Linked DNA regions of Homo sapiens: region 2 is linked to region 1. The links come from fine-mapping of genetic effects on gene expression. A gene starts in region 1. The other region holds a variant in brackets. All regions are shown on one strand. Distances are from middle to middle.

Region 1 (4,512 bases):
CAAGTTGAGGCTGCATTGAGCTATGATCACACCACTGCACTCCAGCCTGGGCGACAGAGCAAGACCTTATCTCTAGAAAAAAAACACAATACAAAAACTATGATCCAAAATAATGCCCTGTGGCTGGGGTGGGGCGGCATTAATGAGGGTTTTTTTGTTTTTGTTTTGAGACAGAGTCTAGCTCTGTCATCCAGGCTGGAGTGCAGTGGCACAATCTCGGCTTACTCTGCATCCTGGGTTCAAGTGATTCTCCTGCCTCAGCCTCCCAAGTAGCTGGGATTACAGGGGCACGCCACCATGCCCGGCTAATTTTTGTATTTTTGGTAGAGACGGGGTTTCACCATGTTGGCGAGGCTGGTCTGGAACTCCTGACCTCGAGTGATCCTCCTGCCTCGGACTCCCAAAGTGCTGGGATTACCGGCGTGAGAAACTGCGCCTGGCCTAATGAGGTTTAAGACAATCAGAGGACTAGGACCCCTAGGACTCAGCTTTCGCAGCTGTGAAATGGGCTGACTCCCCAGCATCCTCATTGAGGTGGTCTGCTGAGCGCAATCCAGGCCTAAAGTGTCAACTCAATTAATGTGCATTAATTTGTATATTTCTTGATGATGTGCCGGTAAGCGATCAACAAACGCCTGTTAAACCAAACAGGAAGGGCAATTGGCACAGCGGTGTGGTGGTTACTGTGGGAAGGGAAGTCTTGTGGGGGAAAGAACCTTACCAAAGGGACACTTTGATGTCACCGATGCCCAGACCAAGAATGAGCACATTCCTAGTCCCGGGAACCTTGGAGGAGCCCCATCTCTCCCACAGAGAGATTGATGTCTAGTTTTGCCCTTTATAGAAATAAAATCACACACCATAGCCTCTCTATCGTCCCCTCAACATCAGCCAATCAAGTTTTTTGGTTTGTTTGTTTGTTTTTTTGAGACGGAGTCTCGCACTGTCACCCAGGCTGGAGTGCAGTCGCACGATCTTGGCTCACTGTAGCCTCTGCCTCCTGGGTTCAAGCGATTCTCATGCCTCAGCTTCCCAAGTGGCTGGGATTACAGGCGCGCACCACAGCGCCCAGCTAATTTTTGTATTTTTAGTAGAGACGGAGTTTCACCATGTTGGCCAGGCTGGTCTCAAACTCCTGGCCTCAGGTGATTCGCCTGCCTTGGCCTCCCAAAGTGCTGTGATTACACACGTGAGCCACATTGCCCAGCCTTTTTATTTATTTATTTATTTTGTAGGGGGGAGGACGGATTCTTGTTCTGTCTCCCAGGCTGGAGTGCAGTGGCATGATCTCGGCTCACTGCAAACTCCACCTCCCAGGTTCAAGCGATTCTCCTGCCTCAGCCTCCTGAGTAGCTGGAATTACAGGCACCCGCCACCAAACCTGGCTAATTTTTGTGTTTTTAGTAGAGATAGGGTTTCACCATGTTGACCAGGCTGATCTCGAACTCCTGACCTCCAGTGATCCGCTGGCCTCAGCCTCCCAAAGTGTTGGGATTAAAGGCATGAGCCACTGTGCCCAGCCCCAGTCGAGTTTAAAATAAGGCTTCAGTGGCAGTGGCGCCCCACTGCAATCCCAGCTACTCAGGGGGCTGAGGCAGCAGGATAGCTTGAGGCCAGGGGTTAGAGACCTGCCTGAACAACATAGCAAGACTCCCATCTCCAAAACAACAAAAAAATCTTAACAGAATATTATTATTCTGTAATACTGTAACAAAAAAAAATGAAAAGTCAGAGGTGATGTTTGGTCCCAGAAAACGCCATAGTTTTTTTGGTTTTTTAAAAATGTTTGTAGAAATGGAGGTCTGGCTATGTTGCCCAGGCTGGCCTTGAACTCCTGGCCTCAAGCTATCCTCCCGCCTCGGCATCCCCTGTTTATAATCCTCAACGTTCTGCATCCTGGTATGGTCGGGTACCCTGTGTCTGGACCGGGAAGGCCTGGAGGGTAGGGGCTGGGAACTCCGCCCCCCAATCCCTCCTTCCCAATCCCTCCTCCCCACCCCCAACCCCGCAGCCCCCGTCGCGCATGCGCAATGACTCCTCCAGGTCCGCAAGGCAGGCATCTCCCGGCCTTAGTCAAAGCCGAAGCCCAGAGAAGCGAGCGATCGGAGGATGCGAGTCTCGGCTCACGTCTGCCTCGCAGCTTTCCTCCGAGGCCTGGAAGGCGAGCTAGCCTTTGCCCTGGCAGCACCCTGCCCCAGCCCAGCCATCCCCCGCCACCACCATCCTCCCCCAGTGTCTGGGCCGAGCCCTGCGGCATCGCCAGCTCTTACCTAGCGGGCAGGGACCCTGGACTTTCGAAGGGCGGGCAGAGCCGGGAGGCAGCGAGAGGAAAGTCCCACTCGGCTCCTTCCTGTGTGGGCCCCTTGGTTTCCTGAGCCACTGTCATTTACCGAAAGTCAGGGCCCTGCGGGAGCTGGGGGCGGGGAGGCGGGCAAGGAGGGGCAGAAAGTTCCGGAAGCCTCTGCATCAGCCGCCCCGTTCAGACAGGCTGCTGGAGACCCCTAAGCCAAAGGAACTGATGATAGCACAGAGAAGGGTCTGGGTCACACCAGGGGCTCAGCCGACTCTAGACCCACTTGTTAAGTGGGGCTCTGGCCCGGCCCTTATTGCCTCAGTTTACCCATCTGTAGCATGTGTGAGTTGGGCACCCAGTGGAACTAATTTTGCACCCAGGGAAGGAAACCTGGCTGGATTTGCCCAGGAGGGAAGCAGGGAAGTTGCCCCAGAGGAAGGTCAAGTTCTTCTTTGAGGTATTTCTCCCTTAAGACTCAGGGAGACGCTGGGCGCAGTGGCTCACGCCTGTCATCCCAGCACTTTGGGAGACTGAGGCGGGCGATTACTTGAGGTCAGGAGTTTGAGACCAGCCTAGCCAACATGGCGAAACTCCGTCTCTACTAAAAATACAAAAATTAGCCAGGCGTGGTGGCCTGTAATCGCAGCACTTTGGGAGGCTGAGGCGGGCGGATCACTTGAAGTCAGGAGTTTGAGACCAGCCTGGCCAACATGATGAAACCCTGTCTCTACTAAAAACAGGAAAATTAGCCAGGCCTGGTGATGCCTGTAATCCTAGCTACTCAGGAGGCTGAGGTGGGAGGATTGCTTGAATCTAGGAGGCGGATGTTACAGTGAGACGAGATGGCGCCACTGCACTCCAGCCTGGCAACAGAGCGGGACTTCGTTTAAAAAAAAAAGAAAAGACTCAGGGAGAGATAATGACCCATTTCTGCCTGTGGTGCCCTGGGCCCAGCCCTAAAAAACCAGGTGGATCCGGCCTGGCCTCTTGGAACTTGTGATCTGGCGCTGAGACAATGAGCAAATGAAGGAGCCAAATCATCGCAGACAACAAAGAAAGCCAGGGTGTCAGGACAGGCACAGACTGGAACTTGGACCCGAGGCAGGACAGGGAGCTGGCCAGGGAAAGGGTGCTCCAGGAGGAGGGCACAGGATGGGCAAAGACCTTGAGAGGGCAGTGATCTTAGCAGCTTGAAGAGCAGTCAGGAGGCCAGGGGCAGGGGTGAGATGAGGGGGAAGGGGACTGCAGGGCGGTCAACAGGGGCAAGATCGTGGGGGGACAGGGGGATCAGGGTCTTTGGGAGAAGGGTGGGTTTTGCCTGGAGCATAATCTGGAGCCACAGGAGAGTTGGAAGTAGGAGCTGTTATAAATAGAAGAGGCAGAAGGCCCGGGCAGCATCCAAATGCAGAGACTTGGGCCAGTGTTCTTAGGATAATAGGATCAGAGCCCCGGAAGTAGAGCTTCAGGAATAGACTGACGAAGTGGTGACCGGGTACAGTGGCTCACATCTGTAATTCCAGCACTTTGGAAGGCCCAGGTGGGAAGATTGCTTGAGCCTAGGAGTTCGAGACCAGCCTGGCCAACATGGTGAAACCCCATCTCTACTAAAAATATAAAAATTAGCTGGGCGTGGTGGCATGTGCCTGTAATCCCAGCTACTTGGGAGGCTGAGGCAGGAGAATCACTGGAACCCAGGAGGCAGGCGGAGGTTGTAGTGAGCTGAGATTGTGCCACCGCACTCCAGCCTGGGCGACGGAGCAATACTCTGTCTCAAAAAAAAAAAAAGGAATAGATTTAAGAAGTTGTGGCCAAGAACAGTGGCTCACACCTGTAATCTCAGCACTTTGGGAGGCTCAGGCAGGAGGATGGCTTGAGCCCAGGTGTTCGAGACCAGCCTGGGCAACATGGTGAAACCCTGTCTCTACAAAAAATACAACAACAACAAAATAATAAGCTGGATGTGGTGGCATGTGCCTGTAGTCCCAGCTACTAGGGGAGGCTGAGGTGGGAGGATCACCTGAGCCCAGGAAGTTGAGGCTGCAGTTAGCTGTGGTCATGCCACTGCACTCCAGCCTGGGCAATGGGAGTGAGATCCCGTCTCAAAAAAAAAAAAAAAAAGACTTTTCATCTCTGTATCACCATCACAAGTCTTAACACAAAATGGTTTGGTAAGTATTTTGTTGATCTTAACTGTTCAATCAGCCAGAGGCTTATTGGAC
Region 2 (4,000 bases), 22 kb before region 1:
TCTCATACTCCTGACCTCAAGTGATCCTCCTGCCTTGGCCTCTTAAAGTGCTGGGATTACAGACGTGAGCCACTGAGCCTGGCCACTCTCCACATCTTTCTAGCAGTTATGAGGTGCACATGACGGGGGCCGGTCGGTGGGGAGGTGGTCCGGCCCCAGTGATGCTGGTCCCCTCCCCACAGCCTCGCTCCCCCAACCTGGCCTTGTCCTCTGACCACCGGGAGAGCATCCTGTTCCTTCCCCACCCACAGAGAGCCTGTAATCAGCTCCCCCAGGCTGCAGCCAAGGCCAGCAGCTGGGGCTGGGAGTGAGGGGGCTCTGTCCTTGAGGGCCCCAGCCAAGCCCCACCCAGTGGTCCTCCTCCACCAGCCTGCCCTGGGGCCCCCACAGTGGCTCCCTGAGAGGTCTCTGGCCCACAGCTCTAACCGCATCCCTCCCAGCTCACACACCCTCTGAGGCTCCCCATCGCCCCAAGTCCAGCACAAAATCTTTTCCACTGAATTCCTTTATTCAGTCAACAAACATTTCCAGAGCCCCCTCTGTACTGAGGCCTCAGCCCAGCCCCCAAGGAACCCTGAGGTCAGGGGAGACAGCTGGACACAGACACTTCCCCAGCCCCAGGGCCAGAGTGGGGCTGGAGGGAAGGACAGGGCTACAGTAGTAGTGGGGGTATATGAGGGAAGGCTGCAAGGATGTGGTAGCTGGAGTTTTGAGAGATGGATAAGAGTTTTCCAAGGAGGCAAAAGTGGCAGAAAAGCTTTGCAGGTGAGGAGGAGCAGCAGAAGCTTAACCTGCATGAGAATCCCTCTCACCAGTCAGAAAGTTGACCCTGCACAGCCAAGGGGTAAGCTCTGACCATTTTGCAGGGGACAGAACTGAGACCCAGAGAGGGAAAGGAACTTGCCCACTGTCACACTGCATGGAAGGGGCAAAACTGTAGGCTCCAATACTTGGGCTCTTAACCTCCTTACTCTGAGCCTTCTCACGCTTGGCATGCTGTTCCCTCTGCCAGGAATGCCTTTCCTTCCCTTGATTGCGTGAAAAGTTCCTGCCAGGTTTGGTGTCATCCCTTTGTGCCCCTTGTAGGGTGAGGACAGAAAGGGTCCCATTGGACAGGTGGGAAAACTGAAGCCCTAGGACACTCAGATACCATTAGGGTGGACTGGGACCCCAGCCTTTCCTGCCCCCTTTCAGGATCCCAAAGAGATACACGGGCTCCCCTAAAAGGCAGAGTCCCAGCCACAGCAACTGCTCTTGTCCTTGGCTTCCTCCAGAGAAACAGAGATCGGGGAGCAGAAGTCAGATCATACATTTAAAGCTACATGAGGGCCGGGCGCAGTGGCTCATGCCTGTAATCCCAGCACTTTGGGAGGCCGAGACGGGCAGATCACGAGGTCAGGAGATGGAAACCATCCTGGCTAACAAGGTGAAACCCCGTCTCTACTAAAAATACAAAAAATTAGCCGGGTGTGGTGGCGGGCGCCTGTAGTCCCAGCTACTTGGGAGGCTGAGGCGAGAGAATGGTGTGAACCCAGGAGGCGGAGCTTGCAGTGAGCCTAGATTGCGCCACTGTACTCCAGCCTGGGCGACAGAGCGAGACTCCGTCTCAAAAAAAAAAAAAAAAAAAAAGCTACATGAATGTCCCCATTGGAAATAAGACAGGAAACTCAAAACTAGGTGCTGTAGTCCCAGCTATTTAGGAGGATAAGGCAGGAGGATCACTGTAGCCCAGGAGTTCAAGACCAGCCTGGGCAACGTAGCAAGATCCTGTCTCTTAAAAATAATAATAATAAATTTAAAAAAAAAAAAGCCTGGGTGCAGTGGCTCATGCCTATTATTCCAACACTTTGGGAGGCTGAGGTGGGAGGATCACTTGAGGTTAGGAGTTCGAGATCAGCCTGGCCATCATGGTGAAACCTCATCTCTATTAAAAATAAAAAAAATTAGCCGGGTGTGGTGGTGCACACCTGTAATCCCAGCTACTCGGGAGGCTGAGGCAGGA[G/T]AATCGCTTGAACCTGGGAAGCAGAGGTTGCACTGAGCCGAGATCGCACCACTGCACTCCACCCTGGGTAACAGAGCGAGGCTCTGTCTCAAAAATAAAAATAAAAATAAAAAAAATAAAAAGAGAGAGACAGAAAAGGAAACTCAGGGGGCCAGGGCTTAAGGGGTTGGGAAGATGCGAGAGTCTTAAATTTGGTTCCTTGCTTCTTTGGGCCAGGACTCAGAGAGCCCCACTGACACATATGCCCATCTGTCTTGAACCTTAACAAATTGCAAAGGCCACAGGCTATTCTACAGGCCACGGGAGCCCCCCCAAATGCAATGTCATGGGGGTGTTCCTGAAGTAGAGGACCCTCATAAGGCCTCTGAGGCCCAGAGAGGGGCAGCTCCGGGCCTAAGGTCACACAGCCAGTCAACAGAGACCTAATCCAGAGGTCTGCGGGCAGGAGCTATGAAAAGGACAGGGAGTGGTGTTTGCCCTCTGGGTGAGCAGTGAAGGCATGAGTCTCACACCCCCGGCTTCCGCTCCACAGCATGTCCAGCTGGGGGCCCAGGGCGCTGAATGATGGCCGGTCCTGTGGGCTAGGGGCCCAGCACAGCTTCATGAGCTCGTGAACCTGAGGGGCGGGGGACAGATAATGGGGTCGTGCCTGAGCAGTCCAAAGGACACAACTCCCATTCAGCGTATTTGTTTTTGTTTTTTTGAGACGGAGTCTAGCTCTGTTGTCCAGGCTGGAGTGCAATGGCATGATCTCGGCTCACTGCAACCTCCGCCTCCCGGGTTCAAGCAATTATCCTGCCTCAGCCTCCTGAGTAGCTGGGATTATAGGCACGTGCCACCACGCCTGGCTAATTTTGTATTTTGAGTAGAGACAGGGTTTCACCATGTTGGCCAGGTTGGTCTCAAATTCCTGATCTCAGGTGATCCACCTGTCTTGGCCTCCCAAAGTGCTGGGATTATAGGCATGAGCCACCGCACTCATTCAGTTTTAAAACACAAATTAAATTCCATCCCATCTCTGCTCCAAAAACTCCCATGGCTCCCTATGGATCTTACTTATTTATTTATTTGAGATAAAGTTTCGCTCTTGTTGCCCAGGCTGGAATGCAGTGGTGCGATCTCGGCTCACTGCAAACCCTGCCTCCTGGGTTCAAGCGATTCTCCTGCCTCAGCCTCCCAAGTAGCTGGGATTACATGCACACACCGCCACACCTGGCTAAGTCTGTATTTTTAGTAGAGACGGGGTTTCACCATGTTGGTCAGGCTGGTCTTGAACTCCTGACCTCATGTAATCCACCCACCTCGGCCTCCTAAAGGGCTGGGATTACAGGTGTGAGCCACCGCGCCCAGCCCTTATGGATTTTACAACACACTTCTCCTTTCGAGACTACCCTGACCAACATGGAGAAACCCCATCTTAACTAAAAAAAAAAAAAAAAAAAAAAAAAAAAAAAAAAAAAAAAAATTACAGGTGGCGTGTGCCTGTAATCCCAGCTACTCGGGAGTCTAAGGCAGGAGAATTGCTTGAACCTGGGAGGCGGAAGTTGTGGTGAGCCGAGATTGCGCCATTGCACTCCAGCCTGGCCAACAAGAGCAAAACCACGTCTCAAAAAAAAAAAAACAACAAAAAAACACCACCTCTCCCTGATGCCCTCCTTCGCTCATCTCCATCCCTCCTTCCCTCATTTGTTCCGGGCAGTCACATCTGCCTCCATCGCACTGGTGCTTAAAGGCACCCAGCTCATTACCTCCCCAAGGCCTTTTTCCCTTCCGTGTCCTCCACTGGAAATTTCTTCTCCTAGCTTTACTCATGGGTAGGCTCCTCCTCCTTCCAGCGTCGGCCCCGTAAGAGGCCCTCTTTGACCACCCCCACCCCACCATTTCCCTCTGTTCATCTCTTTCAAGGCACTTATCACTACCATAATTTTGTCTTTGTTTTGTTTTGTTTTGTTTTGTTTTGTTTTGTTTTGTTTTGTTTTGAGACAGGGTGTCACTCTG

The links. PIP is the estimated chance that this variant, and not a neighbour inherited with it, causes the effect.
Region 2: its variant is fine-mapped to the expression of JAK3 in whole blood (TOPMed, PIP above 0.99).

Annotation. Positions count from the first base shown.
Region 1 is chr19:17,845,676-17,850,187 of GRCh38, forward strand. JAK3 (Janus kinase 3) reads right to left here and starts at 2,307. Exons shown (of 24, transcript NM_000215.4): 1 at 2,271-2,307.
Region 2 is chr19:17,824,293-17,828,292 of GRCh38, forward strand. It overlaps JAK3 (Janus kinase 3), which reads right to left. Exons shown (of 24, transcript NM_000215.4): 24 at 490-2,618. The coding sequence ends at 2,451. Among named protein-coding and RNA genes, the nearest start is that of INSL3, 4.8 kb to the left of the region's middle. The variant G/T (reference allele first, on the strand shown) is at 2,003.